6 separate regions of the Homo sapiens genome follow, and all the other regions are reported to be linked to region 1. Evidence: microRNA targets listed by miRTarBase, many of them from high-throughput screens and not tested one by one. Region 1 holds a microRNA gene; each other region holds the end of a gene's coding sequence.

Region 1 (5,074 bases):
GGGAATTCATCTGATCCGGTCCCTGCCTTTGGGGACTCCATTAGTCAATCAACAAACACTCACTGTTCTGCTACTGAACACAGCAGGGGATGAGAGAGAGAGAGAGAGAGAGAGAGAGAGAGAGAGAGAGAGAGAAATTTCTGCCAATGAGAAATCTCACAGTCTAGGGCACAAAGAAGGTAGACATTAACATTAGGCAATTTCAGAGAACTGTAAGCTAGGAAGAAAACAGTAACGGGGCAACTGGTAGAATGTGATAGGGAAGAGGCAAGGGGAGCTGCTTTTATAGGGTTATCAGGGATGACCTTGCTGAACAAGAGCCATTCCATCCCCTTGGGAATTGTGAACCCCTGGGAAAGGAAAATGCAAAGGATGTGGGCCTTTAAGGAAGGAAGGGCCAGAGCCTGGACAGGAGGCAGCCGAGGGCAGAGCAGGGCGGCCCAGGACCCAGCTCCGGAAGGAGGGGCATGTGCAAGGCCAGAATGAAGGATGAAAACACGTGGGGGATAGGCTGTGGCTCCAAAAGAAGAGGGGGGCTGCCACTCTGAGGGCCTGGGGGGTCCTCGGATCATTTTGGTACCAAGCCCAAGGGAAGGGGCCTGCAGAGGTGCCCTGGGCAGCGGAGTTAAACAGCTGGACTCTGCACTTGGAAATGCTCTCCCTGGCAGAGGGAGGGGCACTGGAGGGAGACCCAAGTGCCACAGGCTGGAGGGACCTAGCCTGTGGGGCGGCCTCTCCAGCAGGGCTGTGGCCCAGGGGCTGGGGAAGAGGGGTGCTGAGGGAGAGTGGGAGCAGGCAGCCCAGAGGGATGGTGCCAGGGATCCCCACTCCCATGCTAGGCATGGAGAGGAGCGGTCCCGAGGAGGAGGACAAGGGGGAGGGCAGGCACAGGCTGTGACTTCCAAGGCAGCGACGTCTCAACTAGGGGATGACGGGAGCCCAGCTCAGGAAGATCTCCCGAGCCCAGGAGCTCACTGATCAACAATGAGTGATAAAGGACAGCCTTAGCTCATTCTTTGGGGTCACTCCTGAGGTGCTCCTTGCCTTCAGCCCTGGACCCTGGGCATGGGCAGCATGTTCTGGAGTCACTAAGTCTCCAGGTCAGCTGCAAACAGGCCTCTGGTCATCTTCCTGTAGTCTGGGCAGGCCAGGGGTGCAAATATGACATAAGCATCGGGTAGCTGAGAGCCAGCCCAGCCTGGGGGATGTGCCAACCGGAAGCAAGGGCATGGCGGGTGCTCCCGCTGACACTGGAATTGGGGATGCCATTCTGTCACACTTCCAAAGCCCCCCAGAACAGAGTGGAGCTGGAAAATTAACAGGCCAAGTGACACAGGTCCTACACAAAGTCCACAGGGTCAACCAGCGCAGAGCCAGCTGCTGCCTGGAGTTGACAGCAAAGAGGAAGGCATCCAAGGTGGGATTCGATATCGGAAAGAGGTTGACTGTATAATATTCATCATATAGAAAGTGAACACCTCACAGGCAACCTATTTCAGGTACCACTGAGCAGCACTGACTCCAGGGAGGAGGCTTCTTCCACAGGGAAGGGCCCTGCCACCCACCCGCCTCCAGGATGGAGGCCAGCACAGGGCTGCAGGTGGAAGTCAAGCGCGTGCTCGGCCACCAGCCATGCCTCTGGGGGCCCACAGGGCGCGCAACCGGACCTCCCCGACATCAGCAGGTGCAGGAATCATGCAGGTGGGATCTGATACTGAAGAGAGGCCGCTCGTGTCTTGTGTGTCATGATTTCTGTGAATGCAACACAGGCCACCTCTCCTCAGGCACCACAAGGAGCAGCACACGCACACGGCCACCCAAGGCACCAGCTCCCACCCAGGGTCTCACAGCACTGAGATGAGCAGAAGGCAGCCCAGGTGCAGGGAATGCATGCAGCCGCCCCCAACATCCTGGCGAGGGGTGGGTGGCCTTCCAGCAGGATGCCTTCCAGCGGGACTAGCTCCCCCGTGTCCTCTGCCTCGATGACACTGGCCATGAAAAACAGACTGAGCCCCGTCACCATTGCTCATCAGCTTCATGACCGCCCCCCACCACAGTGCACAACCCTAGCATCTTCCCCAAAGTCCACATGGCCCCCCGAAAGCTCTCCCAAAATGATTCAATGGCGGGGGTCAGGGGAAAGGATGACAAATGTCACACCAGCCCATGCATTCACGTACCCTGGAAAGTCCCGCCTCAGGCGTGGCGCCCGCACACCACCGGGCGGTAGCGGTACTGAAAACAGGCCATCTGTGTTATATTCGTCATTAATAAAAGCGAACTCATCACAGACAACCTCTTCTCAGGTACCCAGAGTGCCATCGGCTCAAGAACGTGGCTGCCGCGTCCCGTGGTGCCAGCGCTGCCCCCGGGAAGCAGTCCTGAGGACGGATGGGACATCAAAGGTGAGAAGACACAGAGACAGGAAAGAGACCCCTGCCCGGCCCACTCTCGGTGACCAGGCCCCACTGAGGCAGCGACTCCAAAGCACCCGTCCTGCTCCTACCCTCAAAAGGGCTTCATCTCCAACGGGTCCTCCAAGGTGAGATTTGATACTGAGAAAAGATCAACCATGTATTATTCGAAGTCAATAAAGCGAATATAACACGGTCGATCTCCCTTCAAGTACCAGGAAAGGCGCTGAGCTGAAGCGCGATCGGCTCCCCGGCCCGCAGGCCCCACAGGCTGCAGCGGATACGGACGGCTAGTGGACCAGGTGAAGTACATTAGAAACAATTACTTTCCAACTGGTCGACCATCCATCCCCGTACCCCAGAATGGTGCTGATGCCGGCGTCCTTCCCCGAGGTGCCCCAGCCTCCAAGACGGCCTCCCTGGTGGAATTTGATACCGAAAAGGGGTTCACCGAGCAACATTCGTCGTCCAGATGCAAAGTTGCTCGGGTAACCTCTCCCCGAGTACCATGGAGAGGCTCAGATGCTCGGACTAAGGTGAATGCTTGCAGGCGGCTGTGCTTGCAGAAGACCCTCCCCCAAGGGCAGCACAAGGTCTGGGCATTCAGAGCCCAGAGCCTCACACTCTCCAAGGACGTTCCCAATCACCAAGTCCAACGATTCCAACCCCTTCCAGAATGAATCTAGAGACTCTTCCCAGAAGTTGAGTGCAAGACCCAGGTAGGATCTTATACTGAAAAGACGGCAACCTTCCTTGGGCACCTTGCTAAAGATGAAAATGAAACCCTGCTCGCACCCGCTTTTCATTCCCAGACCCTGAGAGGGGGTGACCCTGTAGGGACCCCTGCACAAGCACAGAGCCTCCCTCCCAGCAGAGGATTCCTTTGGCGGGAGCTCAACGGGGCACAACGCTGACCCCAGACCTGCGGTCTCACCAGCACCATCTCCAGCCCACAGAGGCATCACCCCAGGATCCCTCAAAGAGTAACTTCACAGTTATCAACAGCTGGCTGACCATCTGATTAGCCTCATAAAGCAAGTGAGACATTCAAAATAAGGGACTGGGGGGATAAATGCAGCAGAAGAAAGCAGGTGAGTCACAGATGTCTTCTCTTCACAAGGGTCAGGGCAGCCCTGACCTCAGAACCCAACCTTCCCCAGACTCAGAGAACACCCAGAAGGTGCCTCCTGGAGCGGGCAGCCAGCAAGCATCGGGCCAGACGATGGATGCCACAAGCAGAGTCCAGATTCTGTGCCCACCACCCATTCTGTGAACTTTGGAGTGGGACCGACAGCAGAATCCTTTCCCTGACGTTGGCATGAGCTCAGAGAGCCCTCTGCGCCTTGCTACAAGTGGAGCAAGAGGCCAGCCATGCGAGGCCTGCTGTAAAGAAAGAAAAGATGTCACAGACGACTTCCCTTCAGGAGCCATGGGCACTGACCTGCATCAGAGCCTCCTTCCTGGGGCAGGCATCACCTCCCAAGGTGGTCCCGGAACGCACCGGAGTCAGCAGGAGTGGAACAGATGACATGCACCGTGGGTACAATCGGGCCTGTCCCATGGGCGGCCCTCAGGCACCTGCCCTGGAGAGGGCTCCGGCTGCAGGCCGCCTCCTGAGGGTGCTGTTGCTTCTGGAAATTCTCCAGGTAGGGTTTGATCTGAAAAGAAAGCCATGTGCAATGCTGGTCACCAACAAAGCAGGCCAGCAAACAACGAGCTCTTTCCACAGCCCCAGCAAGGTTTTTGACCTTGGAAACATCAACTCCAGAATGACTTTCAGCCTCTATGACCAAATGACATTCGGCACCAACGAAGGGCACGTCCTTGGGGCCAGCATGGAACCATGTAAGGTATCAACAGCAGAGTCTGAGGAAGGACTGAACCCCAGAATGTTCCTGGATGCCTGTGTGTTCATCAATAGCCTTGGAAGTGTGAAAGGAAAGTTATCTCGGGCCCCTAAAATCACTAAGGAAAACTCAAGCTGGAAGCTGCTCAGGATAAACCTGCCTCTCATTCCATTCAAAGTCATCCCTCTGCTCACTGAGACAGATGCGTATCTGATTTGCCTCCTTTGGAAAGGCTCATGAGAAACGCGAAAGAATGTAATCATTTGTGTATCACCTGTCTGTGACCTGGAAGCTCCCTCCTTCCTGCCTTCGCTTCAAGTTGTCCCACCTTTGCAGACAAAACCAATGTACTTCTTACATGTGCTGAATGATGTCTCATGTCTCCCTAAAATGTATAAAGCCAAGCTGTGCCTTGACCACAGTACTTCCTGAAGCTGTGTTACGGGTGTATCCTCAACCTTGTCAAAATAAACTTTCTAAATTAACTAAGAGCTGTCTCAGATTTTCTGAGTTCACAGAAGCAACTGTCCTGAAAGACCAGACCCCACTGACCGTAGAACTTCTGCTTCCCTCCGGAGTCAGCGTCTCACCCAGAACCCTCCGTGGGGATGGAGGGAGACCAGGTGATGCCTGTCACTTACGTATGAATGCTCTGGGGACAACATGCACCCAGATCCCCGGGAGGACGCCTTACCAGTGTGTCACGCCTGAAGTCAGCACACCTTTCCGGGAAGCTCTCGGGAAGGTTTGGGGCAGCAAGAAAAGATCAACTGCATAAAGGGGGAGACTGTATCCCATTTTTTGACCCTAGGT
Region 2 (5,074 bases), not on the chromosome of region 1:
CTCCCTACAAGCCGGGCCACTCGGTGTTCCCGCTGCCGCCCTCCAGCATTGGCTACCACGGCTCCATCGTGGGCGCCTACGCCGGCTACCCGTCTCAGTTCGTGCCTGGCCTGGATCCTAGCAAGTCCGGCCTCGTGGGAGGCCAGCTGTCTGGGGGCCTGGGCCTGCCGCCGGGCAAGCCCCCCAGCTCCAGCCCGCTCACCGGGGCCTCCCCGCCCTCCTTCCTGCAGGGATTATGCCGCGACCCCTATTGCTTGGGAGGTTACCACGGCGCCTCGCACCTCGGCGGCTCCAGCTGCTCCACCTGCAGCGCGCACGACCCTGCCGGGCCCAGCCTGAAGGCGGGGGGCTACCCGCTGGTGTACCCCGGGCACCCGCTGCAGCCCGCCGCGCTCTCGTCCAGCGCCGCCCAGGCCGCGCTCCCCGGCCACCCGCTCTACACCTACGGCTTCATGCTGCAGAACGAACCGCTGCCGCACAGCTGCAACTGGGTGGCAGCCAGTGGGCCGTGCGACAAGCGCTTCGCCACCTCGGAGGAGCTGCTCAGCCACCTACGGACCCACACGGCCCTGCCGGGAGCCGAGAAACTTCTGGCCGCCTACCCCGGGGCCTCGGGCCTGGGCAGCGCCGCCGCCGCCGCCGCCGCCGCCGCCTCCTGCCATCTGCACCTCCCCCCGCCCGCCGCCCCCGGCAGCCCCGGGTCGCTGTCCTTGCGGAATCCACACACTTTGGGCCTAAGCCGGTACCACCCCTATGGCAAGAGCCACTTATCCACAGCGGGGGGCCTGGCCGTGCCGTCCCTCCCCACAGCCGGACCCTACTATTCGCCATACGCGCTGTATGGACAGAGACTAGCTTCAGCCTCGGCGCTGGGATACCAGTAACTACAGCTCTTCCTCCACCCCAGCCCCCTCACCCTCCTCCCTCTCCCTCCTCCTCCCTCCCCACCTGCCGTCGCCGCTGCAACCTCCACTACTGCTTGACCCTGCCGGGATTCCCCACCCAGCCCTTCCCCACCGGACTGTGTATTTATTTACTATAATGTTAGCTTACAAGCTGGGAATATAAGTGCATTAACGGCCCACATGAGTCAATGGTATGCAAAAAGTCTGTGTTCTCCCAAATAATAATATTAATCCCACAAATAACGACATGATCCCCGCCCCTGTTCCTTTCTGTTATTTTTTCTTAGATATAAGTTTTACATTTTTTATTCCTTTTCCTCTTTTTTTGGTTTTGATTGGTTTGGTTTGAGGGAGAGTTGGGGTCTTTGGGTTCTTCTAGACGTTTTGTTTTCCCTTCCTGGGGAGTTTCTTGCATGAGTCTTAACTTAAAACTACGTTTCCGCCTTCTCTTTTTCCCTCTTCCCCCTTCATTCCCTCTTGTTTCCTTCCATTTGCGGTTCTGTTTTTGTTTTTTGTTTTGTTTTGTTTTGTTTTTTCCTTTGTTGTACAAGTAACAGAGAGGAGGTTTTTTTTGTAACTCATTTTGGGGGTGGAGGGGGCCACCTGGGTGGCAGGGGCCCTGGAGCTCTATTGACCTGGTACACTGCTCCGGGACTCCTCCCCCGCCACCCTCCGCGCATAGGGTCCTTGGTCTGGACCCTGCCCCCCAAAAGTAGGGCCTTGCTCCTCTACCTTGCTCTGAGCACGGAGAGCCCTGACCCCACCAGTAGGCTCGCCCCCAGAAGGGCCCAAGTGGCCGTCTACCGTCACCTTCCAGACTCCCGCCCCTAACACCCAGTGGCTACAGTGCGCCTGTCGGGGCACCTGGAGCGCTCACCTGGTTGAATTCAAAGTCCCAGAAGGCCCCGCTGGCGTGAAGCCGGCCCCTTACATTTTGCGAAGTGCATTATAGTCCTTGTTTTTCTCTCCCTCGTGGGGGCAACGACCCCTCCCCTGGCAGTAGGGGTGGGGTAGGTGACTCTCGCTAGATCCCTCCAAAGCAGACCGGTGGCGATGTCAGCGGATGTCACGAGCTCGTTAGCTGCGTTCGGGGAAGGTTGGGGCGTCAGGGAGCTCTCGGATCACAGCAGCCCCCGCCCTCTCCTAGGCCTGGCCCGGCAGAGCCCCCAGAGTGGACCCCCCAGCGACTGGGGTCTTCTCCCCACTCCTCCCTCCTTCTGGTCTGATGCGGCAGCGCGGGGGCTGCGGGGCCTGTTTGGGACGAACAGAGCTCTCCCTTGGTAAGACTTATTTTGTTAATAAATGGAATACTTGGCTATATTCACACCGTGGTGTTTTTCTCTCTTGCCTCGCCCACCCTCTTCCAGACACCTAAGCAGATGCCCTTCTTTTATTCTTGTTTAAAATGCCTTATGGTTTCCTTCTGTGATTTCCGTTCAAGGACGAGTTTAATGCCTTTCCTCAAGAAATGGGGGAGAAAAAACAAAACTTCTGCCAACGCATTACAAATAACATAAAACCACCTTTTAATTTTTTTCCCCAGTTGGTTATGTAGCTCCCAGCCTCACTTCAAAGGCCTTGACATTTCCTGGGGCCAGGGTGGAGGGTGTGTGTAAAAGTGGATTTTCCTCTGGGCCCAGATGCGACGTGCTAAGGGGGCTAAGAAGGGACCCCAGGACCCCAGCACCAAGGGCTCCGGCAGAGACTCCAGCAGCGCAGTCCTGGAGCCCGGCGGCCTGGCGGGCAGAGACGAAACGCCTTTGGCGCCACCTGGTGGCAGGAAGACGAGCGACAGGCCTCGGAGAGAAGGCGCAGCCCGCACTAGCCCCGACGGCACCTTGGTTCTTCTCATCTTCTGAACGCGAAGGATTCCTACCTGCTGTTTTTGTGGGGCGTTTCCTCTCTCCTGACCAGAGGGTAAAGGCACCTGCTGAGAGGGTTGCTTCTCAAGGCTTGGGGGCTCCCCTCAGCCATCGCTGGGTTGTCGACCTGGGTCATCTGCGCCCCGGAAACTTCGAAACAGGGTTTGGGTTTTGCTGAGAAGATGCGACGATGACTCAAGACCTTGAAGCCATTCTCAGTCCGGAGGAGCCGGGCCCCTGGGCCTGGCTCGTCCATTTTCTTGAGCTCGCACGACTGACACTGGCCTCTGCATCCTCGGGCAAGAGAGGGCGGGTGCTGTTTACTGACGTGTTGGCCAGGGAGCCTGCCCCCTGTACCATAGACAGGCCCTGCGCGAGTGTCCAAGGCGGGAGGAGAGAAGGGACAGCTCTGGGAGGCCCAGCCACGTCCAGCCCAATGCAGACTCGCTGCCCTACCCCCAGCAGCGAGAGCGGGCTGCGCCCGCCAAGGCACGGCGGCTCAGACTTCGGCTGCCCGACGCCAGGACCCCGCTCCATCGGGCCGGGGGCGCTTGCTCCCTGCGCAAGGGCCTGGGCGCGCGGGGCCAATGGGACGCTCTGCAAAACCGCCTCCTGCGCCGCTTCCTGGCCGCGCTCCTCGTGGGATCTGTCGTTGGGGTTGTGCTGTTTGCTTTTTCTGTAAGGAATGCGACTTGGGAGTTCGTGCTCTGAAAGGTGCATGCTTTTGAAACGTCTGTGGCCCGAGGTCAAGTGCAGTGCGTAGGATGGGGCCGGTTTCTCTGCGCTGTTTTTGGTTGTCCACAAACTCGACGACAGACAGGGCGTGTGTGTGTGTGTGTGTGTGTGTGTGTGTGTGTGTGTTTGTGTGTGTGTGTGTGTGTGTGTGTGTGTGTGTGTGTGTGTGTGTGTTTTACCAAATCTTTGGATCTAGCAAAAGGAAAGGGATCCTGGGGTGCTCCTACCACTGGGCACTGGGAAACCCGAATTAGAGAAAGTGCCCTGAGACCAGATCAGGGTCTTCCTGGGAAACCAGCATTATCCAATTTCTCGGGGTTCAATCTGGCCCGAATCTTTAAACGAACTAAATGTAGCGACTCGTGGCTTTATTGTTTCTTTTTCTGTTGTTTTGTTCGTTGTTTATTATTTCTTTGCCATCTTCCCTTCCTCTGAAGGCCCCTCTTTCCTTCAGAGACCCACCCCCTCACTATGTTTTTTAATGCCTGCTAAAAATGATGGAAATTGCTCCCTCTGTAGGGCGACTTAAACTTTGCTTTCTTACACTTCAAGTCTTCAGACCTCCCTATCTACAAACCAAAGGGCTCCTCTTGTTGGGAGGAAGGAAGGAAGGGACGCACAACCAGCAAATTCCCTATACCAAAAGAAACTGTTCTAAAAGGTGTTTGGCTTATACCTTAGGTGTAAGAATGCAGTTAGAGAACTCCTTAGACTACAGAGTTTCCCCCATAAAATGTATTGGTGGCCTTTGGTGACTGGGAAGTTCACTGTTGGGCCTGGTGGGAATAGGCTGCCCCCAACTACCATTGTGGCCGCAAAGGGCAGGTCACATAGTCTGGAGTGTCCAGTTCTACTCTGAAAAGATGGCTCTCCCCACCTAAGAAATGTGACAGTTTTAATAAGCTGATGAAAAGTTTGTTACTTTCAATAGCTTAATTCCCATTAAACAAAGTTGCCATCTTAATGGAGGTGGTGCTCCCCTATCCAGTGCTTATTTGAATAATTAATGCCTCCAGCAACCCTTTCTTTGAGGGTCACCTCCACCTTCCATTTCTCCACCTCCTCTTCCCAGCCCTCCTCCGCCTCTTTCTCCTAATCTGTCCCAGGCGCCAGAAATGGGGCCGGTGTTCCCAAAGCACCAGGAAGGGTGGAAGCCACAGGGCTGGAACTTGAGACACTGGACGTTCCTGGCTCCAGGTCCTATTTTCACACCTCTTGCCTGGTTATTTTTGTGGCCTTGTGGCAGCCATGGGAGGAAGGGAGGAGGAGAAAGAGGGGAAAGACTCACCCTTGGATATAGGCTGGACTCAAACAAAATCATGTGGTGTTAAGTTTTTAACTTCCCAACTGTACACCCGCAAACCCATCTCCTAAGAAATTCATAGCCCAAGCGGGAGGTGTGGGGCCCTTCCCCATCTTTCTGCAGCCATAATTGCTCTGCCCTACCTAGCATACTGTGATTGTATCTCTGGGTATATGAACTAACTCCCTCCTGATGTATGTCTGGGTTACGGTGGAATTCATCTTACAATAATCCTGTGGCTCTACACTTTATTAATCATTCTGTAGGGG
Region 3 (5,074 bases), not on the chromosome of region 1:
AATTTTTTTTTTGTATTTTTAGTAGAGATGGGGTTTCACCATGTTAGCCAGGATGGTTTCGATCTCCTGACCTCGTGATCCGCCCACCTTGGCCTCCCAAAGTGCTGGGATTACAGGCGTGAGCCACCACACCTGGCCAAAATCCTATACATTAAATGTTTGTCTTACCCAAACCCCAAAGTTAAATTGTAAATATAAAACCCACAGCGGGGGTGAGAAAACTGGAGAACAGTCTTTCTCTATTTTCCTACAATCTTCAAATAAGAGGTATCTGCTTATATAAGACAGGTTAGTGGCAATACCTGGCTTAGAAAGTTTCTAGATTTATTTCTAGCTCTCTACATACTGTGATAAAGTCCTAAAGTTTAAAAATACCCACCAATATTACAGGCATGCTGCTTTATAAAATATGCCCTAAAATTCTAGCCAAAATACTTCACTTTCTGTAATACTTAATATGTGAGATAAAACTTTTTAGCTCAATAAAAAAGTATTTAAAACAACTCATGTTTTAAACACATTAGTCTACTCTAAATAAATGTATACTATTGTACTTTAAAATGTATCAAAGTAAGGTGTTTTCTATTTTTTAACCATCCTCAATTTTTTTAAAATTAACCAATCTTATTTCATCTCTAAAGGGCTTAATCACATGAAATGAACAAATTCCTCTAAACATTTTCCTTAAGGAAAAACTGAAAGGAGATATAGTGAAATGGTATATGACAGCCATGGTAACTCTAAGGTATACATAAGCAGGGGAAAAAATGCTCAAAATGTAACAAATTCTGTATATAAACAGTCATGCCAAACACAGATTTGTACCAATAAGGATACTGAATTAGATGTTAACAACAGTGTTTTCAGAAAAAGATACAGCAATGAGTAAAAAGCACTATGCTATTACAAATGATTTACAGAAACAACTAATTAACCTAACATAAATCCCCTTAAAATGCAAACCATACATAATCTTAACATGAATTACAGAATAAAATATTTTCCTAGTAAATTAGGTGTAAAAATCCAAACTTGCTTTTTTAAATATAACACCCAGAAAATAAAGAATACTGTTCCTTTTTTAACATGTATTTCTCAAAATAAGATTCACCATGAACATTATTTTAGATATTTTTACATCTTCTTTAGCTAACCAAGTGAAAAATCCAATATACACAAATAGGTACTTTCATCAGTACATAAAACAGCAATAGGTAGCAAGGATAGAAATCAGAATACAAGTTCAATTGAATAAATACAATACTAGTACAGAGACACCCATTTTTAACCCACAATGAAAAATCTGAGCCATGAATAGGTTTTCCATTTTGAATCTAACTTCTAGATGATCTGTATTTTGACCTTAAAGGGGCCAAAATATTTAATATGGGTGAAGCTCATGTTCCATTACCTGTAAAGGTCTAATGCAACAGAAAAATGGTCATTTTACATTGGTTAGAATTTTTAACTAGGTCTTTCATATTATTTTGTTTAGCACATGACAGACTTATACACATATTTTAAAAAATCAAACATGGAATTTCTATATACATCAAACCTTTAACAATGTCTGTCTCTGAATTGCTATTATAGTGTTCAAAATTATACAAACAAACATCCAGTAAACAGCATTTTATTTTATGACACTCTGTGTTAATACAATAAATATACAAAACTTCCAACCCACTGAAACATGCAACATTAGAGGGACACATGGAGGGCATTTCTGTAGAACCATGACAGTCACCATGATGGCAGCGCAGTATTAGTTACTGACAAAATATACAAACATCTCTAGATAAATAATCCAAGTCCCAAATTACAAATCACTGAGTAATGACTTTCCGGTGTTCAAACTTTAGTTTGAAATAAAATTGCCATAATTTAATATTACAAAATGATAAATGACACGGATGACTGCTGTGTGAAGACCATTTTATGACTATGATTTCATGACTGTGATTTTAGTACTAAATATAGAACACTTAACAAATGCCAATCTTTTGCTGAGTGAAAATTTAACAATTTACTGAGAGAAAAGTAAATATAAGAATTTAAAGTTCCTTTCATACTTGATCATACTATAAGCATTGCCATCATTTCAATGCACATATATTTTTAAAAAACAATTTTCTCTCTCAAACTCATATTAAATAACTGGATTTTAAAACATTTTCCCCATCCACACAAAAAAAGATATGTGGGTTCTAATTATTCTTTGCTATTTAATAATGCTACCTTTGAAGATTTCTACATAATATAAACATTCCAATTCTGAAGCAAAGTATTTCAGCATTTTTCAAAAGTCTCTAATATATCTTTTGTTTGTAGTGTACAGGAAAAAATGGACTTGGGATATAAGTTAATGGTGAATATAGGTGCACTTGCTGTATTTTGTGGTTAATGTTTTGAATGTATGCAAAATCCACACTCAATAAAGCACACTGATAAAATAGATTTCCAATAAGACTACAGGCTCTGAAAAACAAACTGGCTAAGTTGGTTGAGAACATAGGTAGAAATTATCGCTGATTAGAAATATTTACAAAAAATAGCTTTAAATTCATACGCTGAAGAATAAAAGAAATGTCTTCCAAGTATACCTGATGTCAATAAGATCCCAAATAAATCAAATGTAAACACCATCTGGATGGATCTGTGTTACCTAGTGACATGCAGCGCTGCTTCATGGATAGTGAAAACTTGGCATCCCACCTCTAGCATAAAACTTTTTCTGTAACTACAGGTTTGGGGAGAATGAAAGTGATTTAACTATTTATGCCTATCTGATTTTTTAAAAAATAAGGATTTCCAGCCTCTAATATCACAATCCTTACTTAAAATCTAATTGAATAATCACTATCATTCTGCAATCTTAATTTAGTTAAAGACTTTCAAAACACAGCAGCATGACTTACAGATGTCTTTGAGTCATTTATTTAATCAGTGGTAAAATTGATTCAAAGGTTGAACCCAAGAATACTATAAGAATGAAGTTCTGTGCTGCATAGTAACAATTTTAACGTGATTATCTTAATGCAGTTAACTGTATTTATATTTTCTTGCTTGGTGCAAGTTAAATGCTTTTTTTTTTATTGCTGGAAATTTTAGATATATTCAGTCTGTCTCAAAAAGTGAAAGACAGGTGCATTTAGGGATTCAAGTATGTGAAAAAATGCCAGGGTCTTTTTATGTTTAATGCCACTGGAGATGAAAAGCTAAAAGGAAAATCCCTTAAATACTGTACAATCTTTTTAGACAACAGTTAGGCTAGCCTTTAATACCTCTGTTAAAAATCACACACACACATCCCCAAAAAAGAGCTGCCAGACACAATCTTAGTTGTAACCACAGAATATACCAAAGTTTTCATATAGCAAAATGTTACTATATGACTACCGAAATTTTTTTAAAAAGGAATTATTACCACTACTTTCTACTGCATTAACTACCTTCTCTTTTGGATAATGTACTGCATATTATATAAACTTCTTATATTGCACCCCCAAACTTTTTATTTAAAAGAAATTCTTGCAGAATATCATTTCTGTGATTCCATTAACCCCTGAATCCTACAACCATAAGCAGTACAGAAGCCAAAACACTAATTCTTTTAATATAAGAAATGTGGTGCCCATGCAAATTAGAGATTGTTATCAAAATATCAGCTATTCTAAAAAAAAGAAAAGAAAAAGATGACAAATTTTACATTATCTACTACAAAATGCACATAGGCTCTTCACTGGTGACTGAAACAGCTAAAAAGCAAGCCAATTTAAAATCCCTAAGTCTCTGCTGGCCTATTTCTTTCAATATAAATAGGGAAAAAGGAATGAAACATGGTTTACTTTTCCAATGTGCAATCCTTATCTCTAAAGATTCTTGAAAGAACTACTGCAGTTAGTATTAAATGCGTTTTTAATCATAAGTACCATTATTAATTTTCAGTGGGTCACCACTGAAATAATTCACTGAATGTCATCCCCCAAAAATATGGAGAATATTTATTTAGCATGTAATATTTTTTCTGCAAGGGGCACTGAAATATTAAGAAACTATTAGGTAAAGTAATAAGACAAGGAAGTTTTCCTGGTTTTAGCCCATGCACAAGTGAACAGGAAATATCCATGCTGTCTGTACTGTGTGTTTTGAACATAAAAATATTTGTAGAATACAGTAACTGGAGAAAAAGGTACAGTCAAAAGGTAACAGTGTATTGTTTGAAGATTCTTAAATCTGGTTACCCTTGAAAGCATTCTGAGCTGCACTAGATGCTGCAGTTGAAGCTGCATTTGCAGCTGCGGTCTGGACAGTTTTGTTGGACATCACACCTGTTGCAAACTCCTGTTGGGCCTTCTCAAAACTAGCACCTGTTGTGCGATATAGTCCATGTACCTACAGAGGCACAAAAAAGTGGGAGAAGGTAAGTAGCAACCTACGCATTCATTTCCAGCAGCTCTTAATCTCAACATTAATCAAACATAAAAATACTAGATTGTAGTCATGATTCCTAAGATCAAGAATATTAGCCACCAAACTGACACACAATAATTGTATTTAAACATTTTCTTAATATAGGTTTTCCTTTTCTTCTCCAAGCAGAAGAGATAATTATGCTAATTTAAACCAAAAATAAAGAACTTCTTAGCCAACTTCAAAAAGTTGTATTTTCCTCTGCACCCAATTAGTCAAGTGAAATTATTACAGCATTACAATGAAATGGTTTAAACATAATAACAAGAAACAATACATTAATTTATTACCCCAGACTATTCAGAGAGAACAGTACCTTATCTATTTCCATTTTATCTACATATACACCACAGGCCCTGTTATAATCAAATGAGATCATTTTATCATTTAATGTACCAAGCACTACTTATGTCCTTCAACATATTGCCGCTATGCACTCTGTATACAATTTAACTTTTTGTGTATGGTCAAGTCCTAAAGAATGCACAAAGAAACACTTCTGGGAATTGTTTCTCCATACTGATTAATCACTCAAATCTTGGAATTTATTTTCAGGAGTAGGGTTCAAAAATTTTCTATCAGTATATGTCTTAAAACCTGC
Region 4 (5,074 bases), not on the chromosome of region 1:
ACTCCTAAATTCCCCTGAAGAAGAAACCAATGTACTGTGGTCTCTTGGGACTTGGGACAGGGACTCTAGCAGCACCTCTGTATCCTTTCTGGCCATTTGGACAAAAGCAGTTGCCCCGACTTGGGATTTTCCTGTAGTCTTCAGTGGTTCATAACAGTAGAGGATTTTGAGCTTTACAGGTGATAGGTACCTAATGTCTCCTACAGAAACACCATCTGATTCAGATCACAAGAAGAAGAAAAAGAAAAAAGAAGAGGATCCTGAACGGAAAAGGAAGAAGAAAGAGAAGAAGAAAAAGAAGGTAGAGTAGAGGCCTATTGCCACAACCCAGTGAGTTTCCCCAGATCTCACCCCTGTCCTAAATACCCTAGAGTTCTTTGCCTCAAGTTGGACCCAAGATTGAAAACCCAAGGCAGGTTGCAGGTTTCTCCTGTACAGCCTGATCAAAGCCAAGGCTAGTTCCTAGTTGTTCTTACCCTGCTTCTTTCTCCCCCAGAATCGACATAGTCCAGACCACCCAGGTATGGGCAGCTCCCAGGCCAGCAGCAGCAGCAGCCTACGCTAATAGGACCACTGGACTCTTTGCCAGGATGGCTTTTCCTGCTGTACTGAACCTGCTGATAAAAGCTGCCTTCCAGGCTCTTGGACACTGCCTTGGGAGCATCCTGCAGCTGGGACAGAGGCCAGCTCCTGTTGGGCTCAGTTGAGACTAAGTAAATTAGGAGAGAGAGGGACATGCTTTTGTAGGCTCATCCCAGTTGGTTTTCTCATGGACATCTCTTCCTCTCCCAGGAAGCTTACAATTTTCTTCTCTCTCTTTTGTGCAATTTGTCTGATTTAGGACTTGTTCTGTGTTTTCTTTAAAAAAAAAAAAATTACATTTATCAAACTGGCTGAAGTGTGACTGCCTGTTAAGAGGTATGTGCCTTTCTGTGAATCAGGATTTAAGACAAGGCATTCCTAAGACTTGAGGGGATTTGGGTCTTGTCATTACATGATCTCACTAGCAGGCAGGGAACCAACCAAAATGAAAAGTGACCCAAGCTTACTAATACTCCACAGCAGACACGTAACACTCTGCCCATTATGTTGAGAACCAAGCGCCTCGGTGATCTCAGGCTCCATCTGAAGAGCTGATCCAGGTAGGGCTCAACAGTGTATTCTAGGTCAATTTTGTGTCGAAAGAGAATAGCCAACTGAAAACACATGGACAGTCACCCATGTGTTTCAACAAGATTGGTTCTTTAGGTCAGAAGCCTGTGATCTTTTGAGATGAACTTCTGGCAAGCAAAGGTAAAGCTTCCCTTCTCTTTACAAGAACTTTTGACCTGCTTCGGTCCTTAGTTAAGACAATAAAGTTATTTAGCTGATGTGAAAACATTTCTAAAACAGCAACAAAATGTAGCCTAAACCATCAAAATGTGAAAAACAAAAACAAAAAACACTTTTAGTTTTTCCAGCTGGTTAGGTAACTGAAAACATCCATGAGAAAACCTGAATTAATGTAATCTGACTTTAAATTTAACACAGTTAAAATCTGTTGCCGTGAAAGCCAAGGTTGTTCCTGAATCAGTGGGTGGAAAACCACTCATTCAGCTGGTTTAAATCCAGGATTTCAGAATAAGAGTTTGCTGGGTTTTTTTTTTTTTTTTTTTTTTTTTGAGACAGAGTCTTGCTCTGTTGCCCAGGAGTGCAGTGGCATGATCTCGGCTCACGGCAACCTCTGCCTCCTGGGTTCAAGTGATTCTTGTACCTCAGCCTCCCAAGTAGCTGGGACTACAAGTGTGCGTCACCACACCTGGCTAATTTTTGTATATATATATATATATTTTTTTTTTTTTTTTTTTTTTAAATTTTGGAGAAAGAGTCTTGCTCTGTCGCCCATGTTGGAGTGTAGTAGTGCAATCTCAGCTCACTGCAACCTGCACCTCCTGGGTTCAGGTGATTCTCCCACCTCAGCTTCCCAAATAGCCAGGATTACAGGCACCCATAACCAACGCCCAGCTAATTTTTGCATTTTTAGTACAGACGGGGTTTCACCATTTTGGCCAAGCTGGTCTTGAACTCCTGACCTCAGGTGATCCACCTGCCTTAGCCTCCCAAGGTGCTGGGATTACAGGTGTGAGCTACTGCACCCAAATAAGAGTATATATATATATATATATTTTTTTTTTTTTTTTTTTTTTTTTTTTTCCTGAGACGGAGTCTTGCTCTGTCACCCAGGCTGGAGTGCAGTGGCGTGATCTCGGCTCACTGCAAGCTCCGCCTCCCAGGTTCACGCCGTTCTCCTGCCTCAGCCTCCCAAGTAGCTGGGACTACAGGCGCCCGCACCACGCCAGGCTAGTTTTTTGTTATTTTTAGTAGAGATGGGGTTTCACTGTGTTAGCCAGGATGGTCTCGATCTCCTGACATTGTGATCAGCCCGCTTCGGCCTCCCAAAGTGCTGGGACTACAGGCGTGAGCCACCACGCCCGGCTAAGAGCTTATATTCTTAAATTTTGAGTAATTAAAGGGCTCTGGTCAACTGCTTGAGATTTAGTGTCTAAGGATACCTATTTAAAATTAGAGCACAGCTTTTGTCCAATAAAATGCAATATATCTAATTGAACTGACACCGATATCTAGTTAACCTGCCTTCAACAGGCTTTCATACCTGTTACTATGTCACCTTTGGCTGTTTCCAAAATTAGCTTTACTTTCCAGAGACTAAATCCTGTATTAAAAAACAACTGTAGCTGGGCATGGTGGCTCATGCCTGTAATCCCAATGCTTTGGGAGGCCAAGGCAGGATTGCTCAAGGCCAGAAGTTCGAGATCAGTCTGGGCAAAATTGGTTGAGAGTCTATCTCTACCAAAAAAAAAAAAATTAGCTAAGCATGGTGGCATGCAACTGTAAGTCCTAGCTTCACAGAAGGCTGAGGTGGGAAGATCCCTTGAGCCCAGGAATTTGAGGATATAGTGATCTGATTGTGCCACTGCCCTCCAGCCTGGGCAACCAGAATGAGGCCCTGTCTCTTGAAAGAAACAACTTTTAAGAGTTCTCTAAGCTTTCAAATAACAAGCAGTTTTGGTGATTTCAAGAGACCTTTTTTCAGGAATTTTTGAATTAAATCACCCAAATAAAAACAGGACCTGTTGTTTTTAGAAATGGAGTCTCTATGTTGCCCAGGTTGGTCTGGAACTCCTGGGCTCAAGTGATCCTCTTGCCTCAGCCTCCCTCAGTGCTGGGATTACAGGTATAAGCCACCGCACTGGGTCTCTTTTTTATTTTTTTAGTTGTTAAGTGGCTAATTTCATTATAGTCTTGCCTAAAGATGGGCTGGGACCAGAGAAGTTTATGAGGTTGTCACTGATAACTTCCCACCAGAGATCGTTCACCCTGTCTCAACCAGACAAAATAACACAAGTCAGGGGGCGCTGGTTAGATCAGGATTTCTTTTTATTCCTCGTTGGTTTAAAATGGCTAATCAGAATAAAAAATAAAAGGGCCTCTTTGTGGAGGCTGGGATCTCCCCTATTTAGAGGTTAGAACCCAGGTATCCCCTCTACCCAGCACCATAGTGAGGTGGGCTGAGGGGTAACCCCCAAGGGACAATCGGAGGGGCCTAGGCCTGCCACTCCTTCTCTCTATCCCCCGTTTTTGGCATGTGATGAAAAATATTGCTTTTTGGATTCTTCTCTCCTGGCCTTGGATTTTAAAATCAAGTTAACTGTGTAAGCTAGGGGAGGCTCCAAGGGGCCAGTAGGAGCACACTCTAATCCCTCTCCCCCAAGGAGGGGATTATCCAATATTGTTTGAGCTAGGCCAAGTTATTTTCCTGATCTCCCACCACCACCAGTGTCTTGAAGTTTTGACCCCTTTCCTAGGGAAACTAAATGCCAATGAGCCTAGAAAACTAATTCTCCTCTCCAAGTCCTTCCCTCTTGTGACCAAAATTCCAGACTCACCTCTCCCCAGGCTTCTTCCTAATCACACTTAGCACCAGCAGAGGATGCTATTTCCGTAGTTAGTAACTGGGACAAATGAGAGGGAACCACAGGAAAAAGACTGACGTCTCCCCTCTTTTCCTGCTGGTCTGAGGAATGGGAAGAGTAAGATCCCCCTCCGTATATGTATCCCTCCCTCATTTTCCCATCCCAGGATAGATATATAATTTCTTTGATATTTATAATATATATATATATATATTATATGTACACACACACCTGGTAACGCAGAAGAGGAAAAAAATAGAATCCGTAACAATAATAAAAAAAATTATTTCTGGTTTAAAAATGATCTGGTTCCCTCCAGGGCGAGCAATTGCACAAATGTCCACTGAGTCTGGTCCAGGGATCAAGGAAGGGAAGGTCTTAAAAGATAAAAGGGGGGGTTGCTACCCCAGTCTCAGGGCCCCAACTCTCCGACTCCCCAAGCCTACTGCATTTTAGAAAACACTCCTCATCCTCTTGGAATCGGTGGTTTAAAAAATGTCCATGCACGGGAGGGGAGCCCCTTGAGGGAAGGAAGGTGGCCACCTGGGGCCCTTTGGTGTAGGCGCAGAGGCGTTGGGGAGGGGAGGTGCCGAAGGCTCACACCGAAATCTCATAGGTGGTACCACCAACCCCTGACACCTTCTTGACTCCTCCCCTCGTGGGGCTACTGAGAGGTGGCTGGCCTGGGCCAGGGGAGGCTGAGCCTAAGCTCTTGGGCTGCCCGTTGGATTTGCTGTAGGTGGTCTTCAGCTGTACTTCATCTCTGGAAAGAAGAGACAAGACGTAGGTGTCAGGAAATGGGACAGAAAACATTGGAAAGGGAGACAGTTTCAAAGGTTCAGAGAAAAAAATGATGTTCTTTTCTATATCCATACTTTCTTACCCAAACATTCCCCTTTATTGCCCTGCTTAAAATAAGCCTGATTCCCAATCTCTCCTATGTACTACTACTCTCTAGTAACAGCTATCACATGTACTTACTCCCAAGCAAATACTTTTAGGAAGATAGCATTATGGAAAAAGTATTAATCTTCAGTCTCTTAACAGGAATTGCCCATGAAGGCAGGTAGAGTCAAAGTGAAAATAAAGAGCTACCAGGA
Region 5 (5,074 bases), not on the chromosome of region 1:
AATGATGCAGTGTTGATCATGATTTCCTTTAGTCTTTTAAACTTATGAGTCTTGCTCTTTAATATCTTCAACCTCGTTCAGAGTGACTACCAAAAAGTATATGACTAAGTGCCACATAAAATAATCTTGAGTCTCATTTTAATAGAGAATAAATCTGTCCAGAAATTTTGTTGAATTATATACTAAATAATAAAAGTTAAATATATGATCTTCCATTTAACTCATTTTTTATAAAGTGAGCCAGTTCTATTTTTTTTAATCCTTAACCAGGAGAGTATGAATCACCCACATTTCCAAACTTGGAATACTTAGAGAATATGTTTTTAATAACTATATTTAAATTTGTATTTTTTCCTTTCAGGCTGCATCTATGACAATGACTAGCACTCAACTTTGGTCATTCTGCTGTGTTCATTAGGTGCCAATGTGAAGTCTGGATTTTAATTGGCATGTTATTGGGTATCAAGAAAATTAATGCACAAAACCACTTATTATCATTTGTTATGAAATCCCAATTATCTTTACAAAGTGTTTAAAGTTTGAACATAGAAAATAATCTCTCTGCTTAATTGTTAACTCAGAAGACTACATTAGTGAGATGTAAGAATTATTAAATATTCCATTTCCGCTTTGGCTACAATTATGAAGAAGTTGAAGGTACTTCTTTTAGACCACCAGTAAATAATCCTCCTTCAAAAAATAAAAATAAAAGAAAAAGGAAAATCATTCAGGAAGAAATGACCTGTCTAAAAAAACCTAAGGAAGAATAATAATATAAGAAAGGAAATTTAAAAACATTCCACAAGAAGAAAAATTATTGTTTATACTTCTACTTATGGTTATATCTTATATTCTCTATTCAAGTGACCTGTCTTTTAAAAAGGCAGTGCTGTCTTACCTCTTGCTAGTGGGTTAAATGTTTTCAAAAATTATAGCAGTAGTAGAAGTTTTGTATAAAATTTGTCCTTATTTGTTAATTGTATATAAATGTTAATTATTTGATACGAATGTTATGCATTTAGTATGCACATTGAAGTCTAAACTGTAGAAGAGTCTAAAACAAGTTCTCTTTTTGCAGATTCACATACTAATGGTTTAATTCTGTGCTCTGTTTAAAGTACTATTATAACTAGAGTAGATCTGAATGAGGATAACCCTAAAATCATGAGGAATGGAAGAATGGACCTTGAAACTACCTAGGCTTTTATGCATGGCACCTCTTTATAATGAAGACACTTTTTAAAGTTTTTGTTTTTGTTTCAATTACCGCTAGATTTTTTTTTCTCTTTTTTTAAAATCCATTTTACTGGAAAGTTGGCCAGCAGAGGGAGTAGAAATTATTAAAATTCTAGTGTTTGGATTGGGCCCTTCTCTAACAGTACATACTCATTCCCAAAGCAATCCAAAAACAAAATGTGAACCATTTGGGTTTCAAATGTTAAGAACACTAAATAGCATGATTTAAAAAATGAAAAATGCTAACACCCAAGAAAAGAAGATATTAAGTGCTTTTTAACAACTCCTAGAGTACAAAATGAGTACATCATAATGCTGGCTCTTCTACTAATGAACCATCGAGTGATATTGAATAAATTATTTATCTTCTCAGTTTCCTTATCTGTAAATTACAATATTAGACTAAGTAAGTTTTTCCAACTCTTCACTACCAATTACCTTAGGCTTTTATAATGCTCCGCCTACTTCAGTCCCATGTTTCAGAAGCTTTTGTCTATTTTTTAAACTCATTGATTAAATAATGATTAATGCATTCTCCACATTTTAATATTGCAAAGGCCCATTGGAGTTTCTGAAGTGGCTCCACAGAATTGAAATAATTTCAAATAACTGTAAAGGAACTGAAAATCTTCACAGAGATGAAGTGGGGTTTCCATTAGGTGCTTTGAAATTTGATAACAAATCATCAACTTCCACTGGTCAATATATAGATTTTGGGTGTCTGAGGCCCCAAGATTAGATGCCACTAATCTCCAAAGATTCCCTCCAATTATGAAATATTTTAATGTCTACTTTTAGAGAGCACTAGCCAGTATATGACCATGTGATTAATTTCTTTTCACACTAGATAAAATTACCTGGTTCAAAAGTGGTTTTTGTTTATTAAATTTGGTAATAAATATATATAATACACAGACAGGATAGTTTTTATGCTGAAGTTTTTGGCCAGCTTTAGTTTGAGGACTCCTTGATAAGCTTGCTAAACTTTCAGAGTGCCCTGAGACACTTCCAGCCATCCCTCCTCCTGCCTTCATTGGGGCAGACTTGCATTGCAGTCTGACAGTAATTTTTTTTCTGATTGAGAATTATGTAAATTCAGTACAATGTCAGTTTTTAAAAGTCAAAGTTAGATCAAGAGAATATTTCAGAGTTTTGGTTTACACATCAAGAAACAGACACACATACCTAGGAAAGATTTACACAATAGATAATCATCTTAATGTGAAAGATATTTGAAGTATTAATTTTAATATATTAAATATGATTTCTGTTATAGTCTTCTGTATGGAATTTTGTCACTTAAGATGAGCTGCAAATAAATAATACCTTCAATGGATAACCTTGCCTCCTACTTCATTAAAAAAATTGAGGCTAGCCAGATGCGGTGCCTCACATCTGTAATCCTAGCACTTTGTGTGGCCGAGGAGGGCACATTTCATGAGCCCAGGGGTTCCAGACCATCCTGGGCAACAAGGTAAAACCCTGTCTCTACAATAAATACAAATAATTAGCTGGGTGTGGGGGCACATGCCTGTAGTTTCAGCTACTTAGGAGGCTGTGGTGGGAGGATCACTGGAGCCTGAGAGGTCGAGGCTGCAGTAAGCCATGATTGTGCCACTGTCTCAAAAAAATTTACCCTGTCTCAAAAAAAAGAAATAAATATATTTTTTTAATATTGAGGCCATCAGGCTTCCTCTCTCTTAACTTGATCCTACATCTACAAAACAGTCTTTCTCTGCATCCAACCTTGACTCTAGCTTCAGCCTCAGAAGACGGGATATCTCCTCTTCAAGACCAAACCTTCTACCAAGACTCCTAATACTTTGACTCCTATTTTGTGTCAGAAATTAAGATAACTAAACGCAATTCCTTTCAATTCCCTACAACCTTTGACCTTAACCCATATCCAGACACTGTCCCAGAGAATAAGATGTCATGCCTTAAATTCAAAGCCATAACCTTTGGATCCCATTTCTTCCTGCCTTTTCTGGAGTGTTTGTCTTTTACAATTCATTCTTTCCCATTCTCCTTCTCCTTTTCTGCCTCCCTCTGGCTATCCCTCTTCTTTATCTTTAAGTTCTCCCACTGTGCAGATTCCTTTCTCTAGGCTTACAAACACTGAAATCTTTCCCATCTAAAAAGCAACATGAAACTTTGCCTTGGGCCCAAAAACCTGTCCAGCTACAGCCCGTTTGGATTTTTTTCCCCTCATTTCATTGTCTTAAAATGGCAGGGTATATGTGGCAGCCAGGAGAATGTGCCTCAAAGACTTCCAACTATGGGGCATTTAATTGTCCAAAAGTCCCCAGCTGCTGCATTCTGAAATCCATCACAATGTTTGTGCCAAGATCAGGCTGTTCTAGCTAATGACTGAGTGTTGCAGGGATACTGAGGCAGGCCTATTCCTGAAAGACACAGAACTCCTCACATGGCCAACTTCAGTTTGAGGACTCCCTGACAAGCTTGCTAAACCTGCAGAGTGCTCTGAGACACTTCCAACCATCCTCCCTCCTGCCTTTATTGGTATAGACTTGCATAGCAGTCTGTCAGCTCCTCCAGCCTTCTCCAGCTCCCTTCCCATTTTCTCTCACACATGTATTCTTCCCCACCCACACATGTATTCCTCCCTTCCCATTTTCACTCCCTCTTGGTGTCTGCTTTCCAGAGAATCCAAACTGAACACAGGACATCTGAAGAGTTTGTAAAAATACACATTTTTTTTTTCTCTGCAGATCAACAAATAAAAATCTCTAGGGAAGAAACTTTGGAGTTCATTTTTCCTTAACTCTAAATATGAGTTTAATGCTCAGCCACGTTTGAGAATCTCCCATCCCTATTCATCCTTTGCCATATGCTCAGGGTATATTCAATCGTCAACTTACTGCAACTCGATCTCTGCTACGATTTCTCTAAAGTCATCTCTACATGATATCCCACAGGTACCTGTAACTCATGGAACTCAGAAAGGAACCTTTTCTCTTTCCCCCTAAAACTAATTATCCCTCCTATAGATTTTACCTCAGTGACATCTGAATCATCCAGTCATCCAAGCTCAAAACATGGAGGCTGCTCTCTTTCTCCTCTTTTACTCTCTATCTGATGAAATATCATTAAACAGAGCTCCTAGAAAACAAATAATTTTGTTTTATTTGTTTTTATATTTCTTACTTTATGGCATATTTGAAGCCCTTCATTATATATTTAATAATTAAAGAATCAATGAATGATGTGTCTGCAAGGACTGTGTTAATCCTGTGGGCTGCCACTGTAATTTTTTCTTAATTACTATTTCAGATGCCATAAGAGGTTAAATAAATTGATGACCAAGAAATCTCTATTTGATTTACCAACATGTAAGTCATTGGCCACCTGAGAAAGATTCACTGAAGCAATCAAGACCAAGCTGATTGCAATGATGTCGCTCATCAGGCTTTCTGGAAACAGATGGGATAGAGTTTGAGGGAAGAGATGTCTATTAAGGATCAATATTTGTGAAAGGAAGGGGAGGAGGAAAGATTGGTCAGAGAAAGAGGTTGAACATGATGCAAGCCTGACAAAAATTCAGCCGACCAGACTGAGGCCTCTGGAGTAAATGCGGCCCAATACTTATCGTCCTTCAGGCCAACATAGCCAGCCTTTGTGATTTTGCCTTGCTCGTGGTTATCTGTGGGCCATCCTGGGAAGGTCATGATCTGTACAAGATGACATTGCACAATCATGAACAGTTTCCATTCTGTTCTCTCCAGGAAAACAGTAGGCTATATGTACATTCTCCTAAAGTAGTCTGGAGCATAAGCACAATCTTCAGCTTTATTTGCAAATTTGAGAAATGGATAAA
Region 6 (5,065 bases), not on the chromosome of region 1:
GTCCTAATGATTTTTGGAGTCCAGGGCAATGCACCATAGTAAGATTCAGGTGGGTGCAAGCTGTGCCCTTCCTCTGTGGAGCATCACAGGGGCAACTGGGATGGGGGATCTGCAGTTATGTTCTCGGGATGATTTTAGGAAGGGGTACATATGGAAGCTGGAGCTCAGGAAATGGACTGTCTTCAACCTATCCATGCCTGCACACTGTTGGAAAGGCTTTGTAGACCAGGGTATAGGCCACACAATTGAAGACTGCTTAACCTTAAGTCAACAAAAAGCCCCATAAATTTCCAAAATGCCTCTAGAGAGCAGTGCTGTTCCCTGGATCCCGATTGGTCTGCTGTTTTCACTCCCCATCTCCTCTTTCCTACTCTCACTGGACTTCAGTCACAAGCAGATCTGGTGTTCCTCCAAGGACCAAGCATGTTCCTGGCTCAGGGCCTTAACACTGGCTCTTCCTGTGCCCAGAGATGCTTTCCCCAGATATGAGCAAGATTCTGGCCCTCACTTCATTCCATCTCTGCTTAAACATTCTCTTATCAGAGAGCCCTTCCTTGATCCACCTTATATAAAACAGCATACCCCCAGCCACCTCTTTCATTTGTTCATTCATTCAACAAACATTTATTGAGCTTCTACTATGCACCAGACACTGTTCTAAGCATTGAGATACATCAGTGAACAAAACAAATATTTATGTCCTCACAGTACTTAAAATCTAGTAGGAGGGAAATAAAAGCATGAAATAGAAAACATAAAATGAAATACTATGTTAGAGAGTGCTACTGTTTAAAAAAAAAAAAAAGTTAGCCTAAGGGGAACTGAAATTGCCAGTAGTGTGTGGAGGTGGAGAAGTGGTTGATTTAAATAAGATTGTCAGAGTAGGCCTCACTGAAAAAATGGCAGTCTTAGCTTAGGCTGCCACAACAAAATACCATAGAACAGGCGGCTTAAACAATGGAAATGTATTTTCTCACAGTTCTGGAGGCTGGAAGTCTAAGGTCAGAGTATCAGCATGATTGGAGTCTGGTGAAGGCCCTCTTCCTGGCCTGTAGAAGCTGACTTCTCCCTGTGTCTTCATATAACAGAAAGAGAGAGAGAGAGAGAGAGAGATTGCACTAGAGAGTGCTAACTCTCTGATATCTCTCCTTATAAGGCCACTAATCTCATCATGAGGACCCTGCTGTTATGACCTCATATAAATCTAATCATCTCCTCAAAGCCCCTTCTCCAAATTCATTCACACTGGGGATTAGGACTTCAGCATATGAATTTGGGGCAACACAGTTCAGTCCGTAGCAATGACAATCAAGCAAATCCTTGAAGCAGCGGAGGGGTGAGCCATCTGAATACTGAGAAGAGTTCCAGGCAAAGAAAGCAGCGAATATACAGGCCCTGAGTCACAACTGTGCCTATGTGTCTGAGCAGGGAGGAGGCCCGCATGGCTGGAGCAGAGTGAGCCAGGGAAAAGGGAGTTAAGAGGTTAGAGGGGTCAGGATTGGGGAGGCAGATCAGAGAGGGCCTTGTAAGCCATATAAGGACTTTGGCTTCTATTCAGAGAGAAATGGGGAGCCACTGGACAAGTCTGCTGCTAGAGGAAGGGTGTTGCTGGGTAGGTAGGAGGGAATAGGATCCAGGGAACAAGTGAGGGCTGGCTTTAGGCAGGAGCACAGACAGCCCAGTAAGGAGCAGGAAGGCAGGGCGTAGGCACTCAGATCCCCTCACCATGTGCGGTCACTCTCCATAGCACTCATCACCGTCTGACAAATTGAACATTCATGTGTTTATTTTGTACTGTCTCTTCCTCACTGGAATGTGAGCTCCATAAAGTTGAGACAGTTATTTCTCTGCTGTTGCCCAAAAGTCTAGAACAGGCACTGGCACATAAAAACAATAAATGCATTTTTTAAAAAATTTGTCTGAATGCCTAGCCAATTGAGAAAGATAGAAAATAAAATTTAGAGTTCTAATCACATCCCATTCTCTCCACGTCTTCAAGACCATGTATCAGAATAAAGAGATTTAACAATTTCCAGTTCATTGTGATACCAGCCGATGCTGAATTTGGGTTTATCTTGTTTTCAGATTCAGGCATGGTGGCGTGGAACAATGGTACAGAGAGGATTTGGGAAATTCGGTGAACTACTAAAACCACAAAAGAAAGGAAAGACCTCTCCAAAAGATAAGAAAGGAAAGAAGGATGTAAAAGGAAAACCAGGAAAGGGAAAAAAGAAATAATCCTGTAAATTGATAAATTGGGGTAATGGACCTTGATAGATTAAGAAGACAAAATATCTAGGAATTAGATGCCTACTACATTAAAATTATTCATAAAATTACACTTATGTGTAAAAATAAATGATTCTTACTTTTACTGAAATATTTATGGATAAAATGATATAACACCTTGGAATTGCTTCTAAATAATATGGGAGGGGGAGGGGAAAGTGGGTAGGAATACAAGTGAAACAAGATTGGCCGTACATTGATAACTAGAATAAGGTGATGAGTACGCAGGGGTTCTTTATACTATTTGCCTACTTTTATTTATTTATTTATTTTAAGACAGGATCTCACTCTGTTGCCCAGGCTGGCATGCAGTGGTGCAATATTGGGTCACTGCAACCTCCATTTCCCAGGTTCCAACAATTCTCATGCCTCAGCCTCCCGAGTAGCTAGGACTACAGGTGCATGCCACCATGCCTGGCTAACTTTTATATTTTTTTTGTAGAGATGGGGTTTCACCATGTTGGCCAGGCTGGTCTCGAACTCCTGACCTCAAGTGATCTGCCCGCCTTGGCCTCCCAAAGTGCTGGGATTACATGCGTGAGCCACTGCACCCAGCCAGCCTACTTTTAAAACTTTTACTGTGAAATAATTATAGATTCACAGGAAGTTCCAAAGAAATGTTCAGGTAGGTCCAGGCACTACTCAGCCTCCCTCAACGCTGACCTCTTTTATAACTATAGCACAATAACAAAACCAGAAGATTGACATTGGTACAATCAACAGTGCACTCATTTGTGTGTGTGTGTTTGTGTAATCCTATGCAATTTTGTCACATATAGTTTTGTGCAGCCACCATCACAGTCAAGACATAGAATTGTTCCATTGCCACAAGTTTCCCTTGTGCTATTCCTCTGTAGCCATACCTACTGCCTACTCCTCTCCCAATGCCTAACTTGTTCTCCAGATCCATAATTGTGTCATTTTAGGAATGTCACATAAATGGAAACACACAGTTTGTAACTGGGATTGGCTTTTTTATTCAGCCTAATCCACCTGAAGTCTATCGAACTGGGGGCATGTATCAGTGGTTTGTTCCTTTCTGTTGCTGAGGAGTATTCCATAGTCCCACAGTTTGTTTAACCTTTCACTCATTGTTTCTAGTTTTTTTGCTATTGTGAACAAAGCTGCTATGAACATTCATGCATAGGTTTTTGCATATGCATAGATACTCATGGAATGCATGGGAATGCTCATGATATTCATGGTATTCTTTTATATCATGTAACCCAAAATATCCCCTTTACATCATTCAAAACCTCCTCATCCTGAAAACCTTTTAATTTGGAGTAGTGTTGATTTTACATTTGCATGTCTTTCAGGCAGTGATTGCAATACTAATTATTAGTGTAGTAGAAGAAAGCAAAACATAATTTGACTAGAGCTTGTCAGAATAGAAATGTGCAGACAAACATCTCTGCCATGCAATGACTTTCATGCTCTAGCAAAAGAAAATCAAAAATTTCAAAAATAGTTTAGAGCAACACAAAACTGTCATTAACGAATTAAATTAGTTTTATGAAGCAAATTCCATTTCAAAGAAATGCCTGGAGGCAATATGTTAACAATTTTTTAAACAATAAAAGGTTTTAATTTATTCTAACAAGATATGTTTTTCATACTGAGTTTTAGATTTTTAATCACTTTTTACTAAGATTTATATGTCAGTGACTATCATTACTGTTCATGGTTTATATCTGAGATAAAAGGCACCAGAATATAAAATAATAAACCATAGAAAGGTACACTTTCTGATAAAAACCTACATAGACTACATTAAGATACATATAGTAATAGTAATGATACATGAAACTATTAGACAGCTAGTGCCTTTCACATTAGAATTACACACACACACACATACCCCTTTATATTTAGAACATTTAACTTGTAGGAAAAGAAGAGGCAAAACATTTCTGGGCAAGAGGAAAGCAGTTGCAGTACCAAAATCTAAACACTTTTGGCAAGGCTTCTAAACAGCAAATGAACTAATTATATATCCAAAACAAATCCATTGAAAAATGCCATTTTTGTTTCATAGACAGAGAATAATGGCATGCTCATATTAGATATTATATATATATTTACATATATATGTGTATTATATATGTATATTATATATATGTGTATATATGTATATTACATATATATATGTAATATATATATATATTTACAAAGCTCTTGTAATATAAGTCCCATTAAATGGCCCAGAAGTTGAAATTCAGTTCATGACTCTGGAATTCGTTCATGTTCTTTTCCTTTGGAGAATGGTTTGTAGCTTAGTAGGACATGGGAAATCAGTTTACTGAAACCCACCATGGTCAAAGTGAATGCTTCTTTTTTTATCTTGGTCAAAGCATTCTAGTTCTTCCTCCTGTGAAGCTGGGAGAATCCATCTTTTCATTCCTATCTCAGTGATCTGAGGAAGCTTGGTCACAGCATATAACAAGTGTCTAAACCATTGTCCACAATCTCGAAAATTTGATGGTCGAAGGCTAATATCCAGCTCGATTAGCTCTTTGAGGAACCGCACGTTTTGGCAGAACATGGTCCACCCCGCATCACAGATGCTGTCATTGTAGCTCAGGTCCAGCTTTTGCAGTTTGGCCAGATGACCCGTCTGTATGACCGATGCTGGAAAACAGAATCACTCTAAATGCTAACATACAAGAATACTGTCTGCCATGGCTATTCCCATTTCCCATAACACTATCTCCAGGAATAGTAATGACAAGATTAGTAATTAGTAATGATTTGTTATTAGCAGCTTTATTCAGGA

The links. Region 1 holds the annotated microRNA hsa-miR-656-3p (AAUAUUAUACAGUCAACCUCU, at 1,437-1,457, opposite strand). A microRNA usually pairs through its seed, bases 2 to 8, with sites in the 3' UTR of a target mRNA and lowers its output. Matches are read on the target gene's strand: a 7mer-m8 pairs with bases 2 to 8, a 7mer-A1 pairs with bases 2 to 7 and ends in A, and an 8mer does both.
Region 2: miRTarBase lists ZNF703 as a target of hsa-miR-656-3p. Seed matches in the 3' UTR shown: 7mer-m8 at 1,127-1,133.
Region 3: miRTarBase lists SCAMP1 as a target of hsa-miR-656-3p. Seed matches in the 3' UTR shown: 7mer-m8 at 3,477-3,483 and 7mer-m8 at 1,480-1,486.
Region 4: the mRNA of ZDHHC5 is a reported target of hsa-miR-656-3p. Seed matches in the 3' UTR shown: 8mer at 4,184-4,191.
Region 5: the mRNA of FYB1 is a reported target of hsa-miR-656-3p. Seed matches in the 3' UTR shown: 8mer at 770-777 and 7mer-A1 at 2,484-2,490.
Region 6: the mRNA of LRRC31 is a reported target of hsa-miR-656-3p. Seed matches in the 3' UTR shown: 7mer-A1 at 4,422-4,428, 8mer at 4,397-4,404 and 7mer-m8 at 4,356-4,362.

The regions. Positions count from the first base shown.
Region 1 is chr14:101,063,149-101,068,222 of GRCh38, reverse strand. MIR656 (microRNA 656) reads right to left here and starts at 1,499; the gene lies at 1,422-1,499. It overlaps MIR541 (microRNA 541), which reads right to left and starts at 3,728; the gene lies at 3,645-3,728. It overlaps MIR409 (microRNA 409), which reads right to left and starts at 2,923; the gene lies at 2,845-2,923. It overlaps MIR412 (microRNA 412), which reads right to left and starts at 2,776; the gene lies at 2,686-2,776. It also overlaps MIR369 and MIR410.
Region 2 is chr8:37,697,791-37,702,864 of GRCh38, forward strand. ZNF703 (zinc finger protein 703) reads left to right here. Exons shown (of 2, transcript NM_025069.3): 2 at 1-2,229. The coding sequence ends at 884. Among named protein-coding and RNA genes, the nearest start is that of ZNF703, 4.5 kb to the left of the region's middle. RefSeq lists an enhancer at 1,357-1,868.
Region 3 is chr5:78,474,825-78,479,898 of GRCh38, reverse strand. SCAMP1 (secretory carrier membrane protein 1) reads right to left here. Exons shown (of 9, transcript NM_004866.6): 9 at 1-4,395. The coding sequence ends at 4,231. Among named protein-coding and RNA genes, the nearest start is that of SCAMP1, 120 kb to the right of the region's middle.
Region 4 is chr11:57,699,529-57,704,602 of GRCh38, reverse strand. ZDHHC5 (zDHHC palmitoyltransferase 5) reads right to left here. Exons shown (of 12, transcript NM_015457.3): 12 at 3,421-4,737. The coding sequence ends at 4,572. It overlaps MED19 (mediator complex subunit 19), which reads left to right. Exons shown (of 5, transcript NM_001317078.4): 4 at 207-301; 5 at 497-893. The coding sequence ends at 565. Among named protein-coding and RNA genes, the nearest start is that of MED19, 10 kb to the left of the region's middle. RefSeq lists an enhancer at 1-468.
Region 5 is chr5:39,102,753-39,107,826 of GRCh38, reverse strand. FYB1 (FYN binding protein 1) reads left to right here. Exons shown (of 19, transcript NM_001465.6): 19 at 362-2,575. The coding sequence ends at 384. Among named protein-coding and RNA genes, the nearest start is that of RICTOR, 31 kb to the right of the region's middle.
Region 6 is chr3:169,835,394-169,840,458 of GRCh38, forward strand. It overlaps LRRC31 (leucine rich repeat containing 31), which reads right to left. Exons shown (of 9, transcript NM_024727.4): 9 at 3,779-4,920. The coding sequence ends at 4,589. It overlaps LRRIQ4 (leucine rich repeats and IQ motif containing 4), which reads left to right. Exons shown (of 6, transcript NM_001080460.3): 6 at 2,086-2,380. The coding sequence ends at 2,238. Among named protein-coding and RNA genes, the nearest start is that of LRRC34, 25 kb to the left of the region's middle. RefSeq lists an enhancer at 903-982.